Regions from separate parts of the Homo sapiens genome. Here all the other regions are linked to region 2. Evidence: fine-mapped expression QTL. A gene starts in region 2. Each other region holds a variant in brackets. All regions are shown on one strand. Distances are between the middles of the regions. Region 1 overlaps MPPED2 (metallophosphoesterase domain containing 2). Region 2 holds the start of MPPED2 (metallophosphoesterase domain containing 2). Region 3 overlaps MPPED2 (metallophosphoesterase domain containing 2).

Evidence for each region. PIP is the estimated chance that this variant, and not a neighbour inherited with it, causes the effect.
Region 1: its variant is fine-mapped to the expression of MPPED2 in adrenal gland (GTEx, PIP above 0.99).
Region 3: its variant is fine-mapped to the expression of MPPED2 in esophagus muscle (GTEx, PIP above 0.99).

Annotation. Positions count from the first base shown.
Region 1 is chr11:30,547,285-30,551,527 of GRCh38, forward strand. All of the region lies in intron 2 of MPPED2 (metallophosphoesterase domain containing 2), which reads right to left. Among named protein-coding and RNA genes, the nearest start is that of MPPED2-AS1, 35 kb to the right of the region's middle. RefSeq lists an enhancer at 1-180. The variant C/T (reference allele first, on the strand shown) is at 2,516.
Region 2 is chr11:30,584,592-30,588,834 of GRCh38, forward strand. MPPED2 (metallophosphoesterase domain containing 2) reads right to left here and starts at 1,762. Exons shown (of 7, transcript NM_001584.3): 1 at 1,451-1,762. All of the region lies in intron 1 of MPPED2-AS1 (MPPED2 antisense RNA 1), which reads left to right. RefSeq lists a silencer at 1,667-1,716.
Region 3 is chr11:30,425,664-30,429,906 of GRCh38, forward strand. The region is part of intron 4 of MPPED2 (metallophosphoesterase domain containing 2); the gene reads right to left. Among named protein-coding and RNA genes, the nearest start is that of ARL14EP, 100 kb to the left of the region's middle. The variant G/A (reference allele first, on the strand shown) is at 2,116.

The DNA.
Region 1 (4,243 bases), 37 kb before region 2:
CCTGATTTAGTCACTCAACAAACATTTACTAAGCAATAACTAAATGTTAGAGCTCTGATAGAAGCTTTATTACTACTAACAATCACGCCTAATATTTAGCAGTATTTACTATGTGCCAGGGGCTTTTTCTAAATTATTACCTTTAATCTTCTCAAAATCTCTGTGTGATGTTTGTGTATGGCTATGTGTGTGTGATATTCTGAATTCTCCAAACTTCACTTAAGGTCAAACATTAAGCTTGGAAGTTAGAATCTGGATTCTGGCCTATCTAAACCATGAGCCTATGTTCTTTGTATTGTATAACTTTGTAACTTATAGATAATGAAAAGCAATGCAAATAATTTTTGTCTACAGATGCAAATAAATTATGTCCAGTGGAGGTTCAATCGACTTCCCCTCCACTTTTGATCCATTTGCAAATTAATTTCAGCATTTTTTTATTCCATATAAATTCATGGTTCTACAAATCTGTTACAACAACTTTCTTGGTTCCCTCATTCATTAACAACCTAAGTAAATTTTCTGACAGGTGTTTGCATATCTGTATTTGAGTCAATTTTAAAAAAAATATTCTTTTGCAGAGGTTACGAAGATGCCATTTTTACTATCTTGAACCTCACACTTTCATTTGGGAGGGCATACATACCAAACTGTAATCAATGTGACCACAAATTATATATACCTATGTACATACTGGGGAGGGAGAATGGAGAAAGAATAAAGTGATTAAGAGGTCACTTCAGCAAACAGTGAGGTCACTTACAGAATCCACAAGACCTGGCTTTGGACCATGGCTTTCCCACTACCTGGGTATGACACTCTGGACAAGTTTACTAAACCTCTCAAAGCTTCATTTACCTCATCTATAAACTAGGGATAATAATAGTACTTGCCTCATAAGATTGACTATCAACACAAAAATTAAGTAACTATCTTTTTTTTTTCTTAACTGACGGGGTCTCTCTCTCTCCCAGCCTGGAGTGTAAAGGTGCGATCATAGCTCACTGCAGCCTTGAACTCCTGGGTTCCAGGGATTCTCCCACCTCAGTCTCCCAAGTAGCTGGGACTACAGGCATGTGCCACCACACCCAGCTTGTTTTTATTTTCTGATTTTTTGTACAGACAGGGACTTGCTATGTTGCCCAGGCTGGTCTCCAATTCTTGGCCTCAAGTGATTCTCCCACCTTGGTCTCCCAAAGCACTGGGATTACAGGTGTTAGCCACCATGCCCAGCTTAAGTAACTATTGCTTGTAAAGGGCCCAGTGCATATCGAATGCTCAGTAAGTGTTAGCCATCATTATTGAGATTCTTCTATGAGAAATATTGATGAAAGAAATTAGTTCTATTTAAAAATGGGTAGATCTTCACAAAAGAAGGTGCATTTTACCTGGGACTTGAAAGGTTAGGTCACCAAGCAAAGAACTGGAGTAATGTCATTAGACATAAAAGAAACAATTTAAATTGAAGAGGGAGAGAGTCATGAAAGGATCAACAAAGGTGAGTCATAGTGCCAAATTTACAAAGAGGTTAATTCCCAGGGGGACACTGCGTTTGTCAGGTGACCTGAATTTTTCTAAATTTGTTAAAGCTTGTGCCTCTCTACTTCACAGTTGTATGAAGATTACTAAAGCCAAATAGGAATGCATTATCCAGGTACCAATTTACATAAAAATCTAGACACCAAATCATCATGACTACAGTTGTGACTACTCACCAGTTCAAATACCCTTCAGGAATAAGTGGTTATTTTATTCTAAACTTTATAAGCAACAAAAAAATATGAGTTCAAAGTACAAACCACATTTTATACAGATCGAACTTTATACAACATACTTTAACAGTTAGCTCCCATTCAGTGTGTACGCATATGCATCCCTATACACACATGAAAATAACACACAAAGCCAATTACATCCTTGCTCTTATCCTGGACGTAACTGCTTTCTTTCTGTACCTGGTTATATGTCATTTCTACATTTTATTAGTCTTGTTATGGTTCACATCAAAATTTCCCCTGCTCTATTTCCAATCAATTGCTTTCTTGGATACTTTGGACAGGAGAATAAACTTCAGATAATTCTCAATTCTGTGTCAACATTTGCTAAAAGTTTACTAGAAACTCTTAATGCACCATGTTTGCATAATCCCATCTGTTTGCTCCTTTTTATTCCTTCATATGCTCAAGTGAATGCTAAACTGTAAAAGGCCCACTATCTATACATATGAGTTCTACAAAGTTGCCTACTGTAGAGACTTGCAGGTCTCCTATAACTCAGGAATATCAACTGTCTCTGTTAAGAGCAATGATGGATAAGATGGAAAAGATTTAACTTTCAATTTTGGGCAGGAAGATTACTTCCTCAAAAAGCCTTCTCCTAAAAACAAAAACAAAAACCTCACAGGTACTCCCTGTGCCCTACTATTAGAGCTCATCCCAGCTCTAGTCTCTGGAGGTTCTGCCCTGTGATTGTTTCAAGCTCTCTTCCTCATGAAGAGGTGCACACGTGACTGCCG[C/T]CATCGATAAAGGCTGAAGTGAGTGTACTTAGCTAAAGGGCATTGCAATAATTTTTCTCTTCCACGTGAGAAAGTTAGCCTTGAAAATTCTCTGGCTCACTGCTTGTTTTTAAATCATCTTTTGGGGAGGGGTGGCCAAGGGGGCATGTTAAGTTCAAATCAGCCCCTCTTCCCACTCCCATATCAATTGCTTTTTTAAAATAATAATAAGATAGTAGCACCTATCAAGCCTTCAGATTTGCTTTGAAGACAGTGCTAATGACTCAACATTTTAATGGGCAATGCCCCCCAATGTCCATTGTAGGAAAGCAGTCCTCGCTGATAGATTAAATTTGATTAGCACTGGGGCTGGCGCTGTTCCGTGGAGGCAATGTGATTCCTGTAGGAATCTAGGGTGAATGGTAGCCTGAGAAACAGTCAGTGAAAAGATTTATAATCTCCAACAACAAATCAGCCCCTGGTTCCAAAGAAATCATTGTGTCTTTCCCACCCCTGCTGTAGCATGTCATCTATACTAGGAAACACACTGAGTATCTTGAACCCATTTCAATGACTGCAGCAGGACTAGAATATAATTTTTCTTTGTTTGCCCTGACTCTTAAATGTTTGCTTCCAGAGCCAAAGCCCGTCAGTACTCCCATTATGGCCTTGCAGAGGGGATGTGAGAATAGTCAGGAATTTTGATGGGAGTTTACCACAGCAAAACTTCCCAGAGCACTGGTGGCAATTTAGGAAGCAGGTAATTTTTAAAAGCACTTGGCCTGAAGGGTATGGACAAGTTCACACACACATTTGATGTTTCCACGGCTTGCACGGCTGAAGAAATGAGCTATTTCCATTCTCCTCTCATTCCGGAGTGAAAGAGTAAAACCTCAGCCAGGTCTGTCCGGGACACTTTACTAACCAGAAAGCACAGCCTGGGGAAAAAATGCAATAAAATCTCCCGCCAGGTCCAGTTCAGGCCCCTTCATGATGAGAGGCCAAACATCAGGAAAATTTGGTAGCAGTAATGCTGGGTTTCTGAGTTACAGTGTTTTCTCACAAGTGATTGAGTATAATTCACTCAACTTGTTCTATGCAAACTGGACTTGTGTTTAAGTCCCAGTTAGGACTTAAACCCAAAGAAAGTTAACTACTTTGCCCCTCTGACCTGCCTGCTATTCCCTTCCATCTTTATCATGTATATTGGTAGAATCTTTCATACTTTTTCAAAAAGTTGACTCATACATAATTTCAATTCATTCTCATCTTATCAGTAAAAAGGGCATTGTAATTATTCCCATTGGAGTCTAAGAACAAGAAGGGTTGAGTGACTTGTTCATGGCCAATGTTAGCAGCAGAACTGGATCCACACTCTATACTTCCTAACCCCCAGTAATAAAAATAATCACTAACATCAATGAACACTATTCCCACGCTTAGGCACCATGCCAAGCACTTTATGAACATTACCTCATCCATTCCTTGAGAGAACCCTATAAGGTAGGTATTATTAATCCCATTTTACAGATGAGAAATACTGGACTTACAAGGTTACATAATTTCCCCATAGTCAGAGATGCTATAAATCATGAGGCCTCTGTTATAAGAGGAATAGAATTCCTCAGCTTACCTATAGTCCCTCCCTGTCCAATGCTTTTGTCTACACAAACTCAATGCTAAGTTGAAAAATTGTAAGTTTTCTCCTGATTTCAAATAAATTCCTTTTAAAATATCTAATAAATTTAT
Region 2 (4,243 bases):
GCTCTGGATTGATTGATGACCACCGGCGGCCAATGGCTCTGACACCACGCCATCCTCGGTCGGGCATCACAGCCCCACGTCCCCGACCTCAGCCTCCCGGGCGCGTTGGCATCCCCGAACCCACAGCGCTGAGCCCGAGCCCGGGGCCGCCGCCTCCTCCCTGCTCTACGCCTGGGCGCTGCCAGGTTCCTTCCCTGGAACGGCGGAGAAAGGAAGGGAGGGAGCCAGCGAGCGTTGGAAGGGGGTGTGGAGGCCACGGGATCTCCCCCTCTTCTGACATCTTTTTTCACTTAAACTTTTGTTTGTCCCACCCCCCCGACCTGTTTGTGTTTGTTTGCAGCATCTCAAATCAATTATACATTTTTCATGACCCGCATTTGCACTTAATTTGGGGTGTGTGTGTGAGAGGGGGGTGGTGATGTACTATTATAAATCAACTTCACTGGGGCATCCTTAATTTATTTTCTTGCTGACGGATTCCAACCGGCTCCTGAGCCTCTAGAAAAATGCCCCCTTCACCTCCTAGGCCGCAAAACCCCGGAATTCAAAGGCTTTACAAAGATAACCTTGTTATACGTAAATAGCAAAGAAACTCCTGCCTCTGTAGAGAAGAAATCCGGCGGCAACGGTTACTTTTCCTCGGTACTCGTCCCCCGTCGCCTAGCCTCGACCCCAGCTTGGGTCGCCGGGTCGCTCCGCAGGCTGCGAGCGCGGAGACCCAGGCAGCGGCGGAGAGTGAGGTTGGGGCGCGGGGACGGGGTGAGAAAGAGCCCCGAGCGAGAGCGGCGCGCGCGGGCGGCCCCGGGGGCGGCCGCGGGGCGCAGCCGGAGCACAAAGCTGCGCGGTGCCTTCCCCTCGTCACTGCACCTGGCCTCGGGCCGCCGCGGGAGCCCGGGGATCGGGCCAACACAATGCACCCAGGCCTAGGCCGGGGCGGCTCGAACACATCACCCCGGGACTTTCTAGTAAACAGCTCGCTGAGCCCTCGTCCCCACCCCCATCCCCGCCGCCCGGCTTCCCCAGCTTCTCGCCGATACCCCCTCCTCTCCTCCTAAGAAATCCTGGCGGAGGAGGGAGCGAAGAGGTGGGGACCCCCAGAGGTCGGGGGACTGATGGCTGGAGGGGGTGGAGAAGAGAAGAGGCGCAGGATGGGGAGTCGGAGGGAAGACACCTCCTAAAAAAGAATTTGCTTTCGCTCAGGGGTTGAAAATCAGCCCTCCCCGAGCGCCGAATTGCCCGGGAGGCGCCCGCTCGTGCGGATGTCAGGGGCACCGGGGCAGCCCGGGTCCGCAGCCTCCGAGCCCCTCGCACGCGCCTCTGACAAGGCACCTCTCACCCGGGCTCCGCTTTGTGTGTGCATTTTTTTCCCTTCCTCTAGTGCTCGGCACCGGGCTCCCGGCCGCCTCCTCCCCCTCCCCCGCCCTCCGCCTCCCTTCCCGGGGCGGATTACCTTTCCCGGGCTGCGCTCCGGATCCCGGGGATGCCTTCAGCGCCCGGCGAGCAGGCGATCCATAGCCGAGCGGCCCGAGCCGGCTGGAGGAGCGCTGGGGGCGCGCGGGGGCGGCGAGGGGCGCGAGCGGGCCAGAACCTTCGACCCCGGAGGTCCCGCCGCAGGCTGGGGCTGGGGGCCAGGGGGCGCGGCGCTAGAGGGAGGCGGGGGGAGAAAGGACCCGAGCAGCCTCGATCTGGGGAGAGAGCGAGCGAGGGGGCGAGGAGAGGGAGCGAGGGCGCGGCGAGCCGGAGGGAGAGCGAGCGGTGCAGTGACAGGGACTGCCACTGGGGTCAAAGGAGCACAGCTCCAGGAAGCAGGGCGGCCGAGGCGCCGCTCCGTGCGCGCTCCCCGGCGGGACCCCGCGCCCCTGCACGCCCCTCCCGCAGTCCCTGCCCACTCGGACCCCCACCGGTGCCCCGAAGCCCCAGGGTTTCGAGAGGAGGAGGGAGCCGAGGGCGAGGCCCGGTAGCCTGCTGGTGCTCCCGGGTCAAGCAGGCGGCAGGAAGCTGAGCTGCAAGTTCATCATCATGAGTGCGATCTGCGTAAAAAATGATAGGGGAAGGAAGGCGGGCTACGGTGCCCCAGGAAAAGAAGGGAGCTTTCTCCCAAATGGTGTTCTTCTGCAAAGAGAACACCCAGCTCCCCGCCACCCACCGACCTGCCAGGCTCTGTCAGGAGTCCTGGCACCGTTCCAGGACGCAGGGCTCACCGCAGGGGTAAGGGGAGCGGCTGGGACACTTCGCTCAGACCTAGGAAGGCGACCCTAGGTTCCCTCCCATCTGCTGATCTGAGGCTTTCCTGGGGGAGAGCTGTGCTCCTTTTTCCCCAAGCCTTTCAACACGACAGACACACACACACACACACACGCTCACTCACTCACTCACACACTCACCTCTTTCTCTCTGCAATGTTGCTGAGAAAGAAAAGGCCAACCCAGCTGATCATTTTTTTTACCTCCATGAATTAAGGCAGATTCAGGACAGGAAGGTGAGGAGAGGCAAAGACTCTAATTGTTTCCATTTTCGTCTTTTGGATAAAATTTTCCCCAAAAGATAAGCATGTCAAAAGCATTTTAAAAATCAAACTTAGTCCAGTTTTGTCTGCTACTTTGGAAAATGGAAGAAAAGGTTTTCAGAATTTTGTACAAACAACACAAGGAAAGGAAATGCCGCTGAAATGCTGGAAGACAGAAAACAAGGGAGAGAAGGCTTTTAGAAAACTTGGTTGGCAGGGTTGTCTGTGAAAGATGAGGTGGCCCTGTGATGTTATGCCATTGTCATTGCTGAAAGATTGGGACAGCAACCAGATCTAATTCCTTTCTAGGAGTCAGACTGAAAGATCTGTGCATTCTCTGAAGGGAAATCCAATGTATATATATGTGTGTGAGAGAGAAGTGTGCTAAGTATACTATGTGACAACTGACTAGACATCCTGGCTGAAATTATACCCCCTAAAAATAAAAAGGAGCCATTGCAACCTGGTCTGTGGCCTCTGTGCTGAGACTAATTGGTTTCCAGGGTCTGGGGAGGAAGGGAGAGAGGCTTGTAGGAGCCCCTATAAAAAAAGATCAAACGGAATTCACTTGAAAATATTTCCCTTTTACAATGGGCTTTCCTGGCACTTGAATTTTAAGTAACCCATCTCTTATGCCTAGGCTGAAATGAAAAGGGAAATGGTCTTACTAATGTATTTATTTTATTTTACAGCATGCCCAGAGTGTCAGTGCTTGTCAAATGTGCTGGGGTGGAAAGGACAGTGTCTTTCCTTGCCCAGCACAAATCAGAACAAGTGACATTGACATTAAAGGATGCCAAAGATGGGGGCATAGAGGCACCTTTAAATTTTGTTTTCTTTTGTTTTCTAGCCCATCAGCGAACACTGACTAGAATCACGTTTTTGAAGAAATGCTTGGTTTTGTTTCCTTTACTCTGTGACTGAGTACTACATTCCTCATATCTTAATAGTTTGAATTTTTAGACTGATTTGGGCTGATTTAATCAGTTCAAAAAAAAAAAAGCATCACCAGCCAAATAATTTCTGTGGTTTCCTTCTTTAAAAAAAATTGCAGTCAAACAAAACAGACAAACTAGTTTGAACATGATTCTGAATCTAAATATGTGCACCCAGACAGTAAATAATAATGCTTTCTACTTTAGTGGTACATTTTACAGGATACTTAATGCCATAAAAAATCAAGTGGGTTATCCATTACAAAGTTGATGGAAATTTGTATACCATTTTACTGAGTGGGGAAAATTGAGGTAAAAAGGCTTAAAATTGTAATTTGTAGTGCTGGAAGAAGTCAACCTGCTGATAGATCAATTATCCAATAGTGACCAAGTTATATTTGGATTATGAAATTTTATTTTCATTAGGCTACTAGCAAGCTGGAGATATGAAAATGAATTTAAATAATAAACCAGGAACAAAAAGACACTCACTTTTCAAATAATTCTCTTTACGTGGATTTGAACATATTGCATTTTGTTAAATCATATTGTCTACAAATACAGCTACCTACACTAAAAGCTTAATTTAAAATTATTGGATGTGAACCATGTCTATCCCATCTCCCATATAAGCTTTGAAATGTTACCTCATTATATCAAATTTTAAATCCTATAAGCTTCAGCTTTTTTTTAAAGATAAGTGAGTCTATAAGTTCCATTTTCGTTGTTGTTGTTAAATTCAACTTTTATTGTGTATAATGGAAAAGAAAAGAAGGATGAAAATCAAATACTAAGTTTATGA
Region 3 (4,243 bases), 160 kb before region 2:
TGTTTTGCTGCTGCAGAAATCAAAGGACAAGGTACCAGGGTGCCTTCAGTTAAAACAAGGGCTGGTCCTGCTCAGCCCTGGGACCCTGAGGAGAGGAAACGCGGTGAACTTAGCAGCCCCCAGTGGGACCTGCACTAATGTCCAATCCTCAGCAGTGAGAATTCTTCAAAGAGGAATCTCACAGTTCCCATCATCCAGGTTTGAAAGAAAAAGGGAGGCTTAACAGATGGAGAGAAGTAGACGTAAAGAAAAGGGATATTTGTCTTCTCTTTTCCTTTTTTCATGGCAGTCTTTTTATTGTGGTAAAATATACATAACACAAAATTTACCATTTTAACCACTTTTAAGCTATAATTCAGTAGCAGTAAGTATTAGGTTGGTGCAAAAGTAACTGCGGTTTTTGCCATTACTTCCGATTACTTTCACCACCACTATCCATCTCCAAATTCTTGTCATCATCCTAAATAGAAGGTCTATACACATTTAACACTAACTCCTCCATTCCTTCTCCCCCAGTCCCTAGTAACCACTATTATACTTTGTCTCTATGAATTCAACGATTCTAGGTACTTCATGTAAGTGGAATCAGATAGTAATAGTCCTTTTGTGTCTGGCTTATTTCACCCTGCATAATGTTGTCAAGGTTCTTCCATACTGTAGCATGTGTTAGAAATTCATTCCTTTTTACAGCTGAATGATATGCCATTGTGTGGGTATGCAGAATTCATTTTTTTTATCTAAGAAGGTTTCTGAATGCTCAGTAGGTGCCAGGCACTAAGCTTGACCACAGGGAGACCCGGATAATAAGTCCCAGTCCCTTTCTTTGTGAAGTGCACAGTTACTGGATTGAAAGCCCAGTGAGGATGGGCTCAGTAAGGTACCTCCCAGGGTATACACTCATTCAACAGACATCACCTGGATGCCTATAATGAGCCAGGCTCTAGCATGGCAGGTGCTGAGAAAATGAAATTGAATACAGTTTCCAGAACAAATCCATAGCCAGCCAGTTCATAGGTAGCAGTGCCCTGGACAGAAGTCTTTAAACTTTGGCCTTCTTTTTTAAATAACCTAATTTCAGAGGAGCTTGGGGAACATCAGAATGATGTGAAAATTAATCCAGCAGTTCCAAATGCAGACAGGCCCTGAGGCCAGGAGGTGACCTGGGGCATCTGTGACAGGACTGGTGTGAGCGGGAGGGAGGTCCTTCCGTTTCCTCCTATACATTCCATAATAAGGCCCTGCAGCTGAAACCAGGACCACAACACACAAAAACCCACATCCTACCAGAGACTGAGCCTGCAAGGGTGGCGTGTGTCACATGCCTGGCTGGCTCCAGAGCACAGGACGAACAGGACAGGGGAGGAGGTAGGAAGACTGCCAAGTACTCAGGAAACTCACAGAGAATACCTGTGCCTCCTCTTCCCCATCCTACCCTTTAGACATGTCACGGCAACCAGGCAGGTAGATTGTTTTTCTAACTTAGATTTCCCAACAAAATAAGAAAAAGAGGAAAGGTAGGTTCGGGAGTAGCTGGATTTTGTCTTGTTACATAGCGAACTCTCAAGAATTGATGTTAATAAACAAGTAGGAACTGATGAAATCTCTGCCCCCAAATACAGGAGAATTCACAATTTTATTACGTTTGATTTCATTTACAATGAGTGTGTGTGTTGTCACACATTTATGTTGCTAATACTGGTTTCTTTTGTATGCTATTTAATATTCTAGGGCATTATCAAGGGGATATACAGTTGGGGAGCATTTTACTAGCAAGAAAGCCTGCTACCTGCAAAATAGACCCAAAGGGGACAATTGATAAGTGGACAATAAAATACCATACAGCCATTAAACATAAGGTCAATTGGAAACTCAATGAGTCTGGCTCACTACTGTGTCCCCATCACCTGGCACAGAGAAGATGTGTATTTGTCAGCTGAATTAAGAATGAATGTTCATGAAGAGTTTGTAAGTTCATGAGAAAATTCCTTGATGGTCAGTGGAAAAGTAAAGTATTACCTTTCGTGTATCAGTATGAATTCAAACATGTAAAAAATGCTTTGAAGAAAAAGAAACAGACGGACATGCCTAATGGTTAGGTTATCTCTGGGGGTGAAG[G/A]GAGAGGGGAAAGATTATGGGTGATGTGAATTTTTTTCCCTTTCTATTTCTTTTTTTATTTAACTTTTTCTATAATGACTATATATCATTTGGAAGAAAAATTATTCAATGTAAAACTCTCCAGATGGCTAAATGCAAGTGGAGCATGGATGGAAGAATTTGGAGAATTCAACATCTACTTCGACTCTACTTTTTCTAAGGTGGTTTCTTCCCTAGCTACATCCCATTAATGCCCTAGAATATTAAGGGGGTAGGGAAATTAGTGGGTGTGGGGACTTTTGCTCAGGAAGCTGACATACGGCCTGCCTTCTTTCTCTTTACCACCCATTTCCATATGTGGCAATAAAAAAGCATCTTCAGCAAAGGAAGTCTTAAATTCATTCATGGAATGAATATAAGCCACATTATTGAGCACCTGCTTAGTGCCAGACATCACTCTGTTGCTGGTATATATCTCTCATCTGACTGAGAAATTTCAGTTTAAATGCACACAACATTATATATCTGTATACCACTTTGCTGCTTACAAATAATTCTCACATTTATCAGTTTACCAAGAGGTGAGCAAAGTATTAATTTTGGGAAAAACAGTCTACATAAATAGGATTTTGGGGGCCAGGCATGGTGGCTCATGATTGTAGTCCCAGCTACTTGAGAGGCTGAGGTGGGAGGATCCCTTGAGCCCAGGAGTTTGAAGATGCAGTGAGCTCTGATACACCACTGCACTCCAGCCTTGGCTGTCTCTAAAAATAAAAAATAAATAGAAGTTGTAGCGACTTGTCTAAGGTCATCTAAGCTAAGTTGGCATGAACCAGAACTTTGTAGTGCAATGATTAAGTTAAGAGGGTTAGAAGTTAGGTCTGGATTCAAATTCCAGCTGCTTTCTACTTAGCAATATGACCTTGGACAAGTTCATCTGTTTGATCTCAGTTTTCTCATCTATAAAACGGAGATAAAAATAGCAACCATACACGTATGTTGTGCAGATTAAATGTGATAATATATGTAATACATTTAGCAGACAGCCTGCCTATATAGATTAAAAATTAAATGGTGACTCTTATCATCATCATTATGAATGTTAATATCATTATAGATATTAATATCACCAACCCTTTGGTTTTTGTTCCCTAACTTATCTTCTCCATACTTCATATGACCTCCAAGTTTACCTTTTCTCTACTTTTCAGATGTAGGATGTGGATACCAAAGAATTGAGTAGATCTGTCACAAAGCAATGGAAGATGACATTTGATATGGGTGGGCCAACTGCGAATAAAAAGAAGACGTTCACTTGGGAGATAGAAAAGAGAAGTTCTAGTCATGACTTTTCCAATTTACTTGCTATATAACCTTGAATAAGTACCCTCTCTGAATTCCTGTCTCCTTACCTGTGGAATGAAGACAAAAATTCCTAAGGCTCTAGCAAGATTGTCAAACAAAGGCCTATATGTGTGAGTTGCAAATAAAAGGAAAGCACCTTCTGATAAGTGTCTTCTAATTCCCATGTCATTTCTTGTCCCTGTGGCCTGTTTGTGCTGTTTGAAAGCTCGGGGGAATTGGAATAAGTGACAAGGAGGTCAGATGTAAGTTAAAGTGTTAGCCCCCATTTATCTACCATTTTGGCTCTAAACGACTAGTTTCAGTCCAGACCGATTTAGTAAAGTGAGAAAACTGTGACTGCAAACTGGCAGTACACACAATCAGAGGAATGAGTAAAAAGCTTAGACTGCCCTTCAATTCAGAGGTTAAAGCAAGCACACAGACCCGGTGTCTCCCTCACTGTGTGCCAGCCAACCATATATTATTAATTGGGCTCAACAAACATTATTGAGCACCTTCTACTGCAAAACTCTGGCAGGGCGCTCTGGGGAGATCTAAATGCAATGTGAGGCAATGCCCCACTCTTCACCAACCTGCCATCTGGTTGGGATAACAAGATCATCACAGGCAAAACTGTTCTCCCATATCTCTGCCCATTAAAATTTCACTGAGCCCTCAAGGCTCAATTCATAATTAGATTTTCCCCAAGAAGCTTTCCCCAATCCCCTCAGCCCTTTGTTTAATCCTCATTTCTGGAATTTGTCATGCTCTGCATTATAACTTGCTTGTGTGTGTCTTTTTTTCT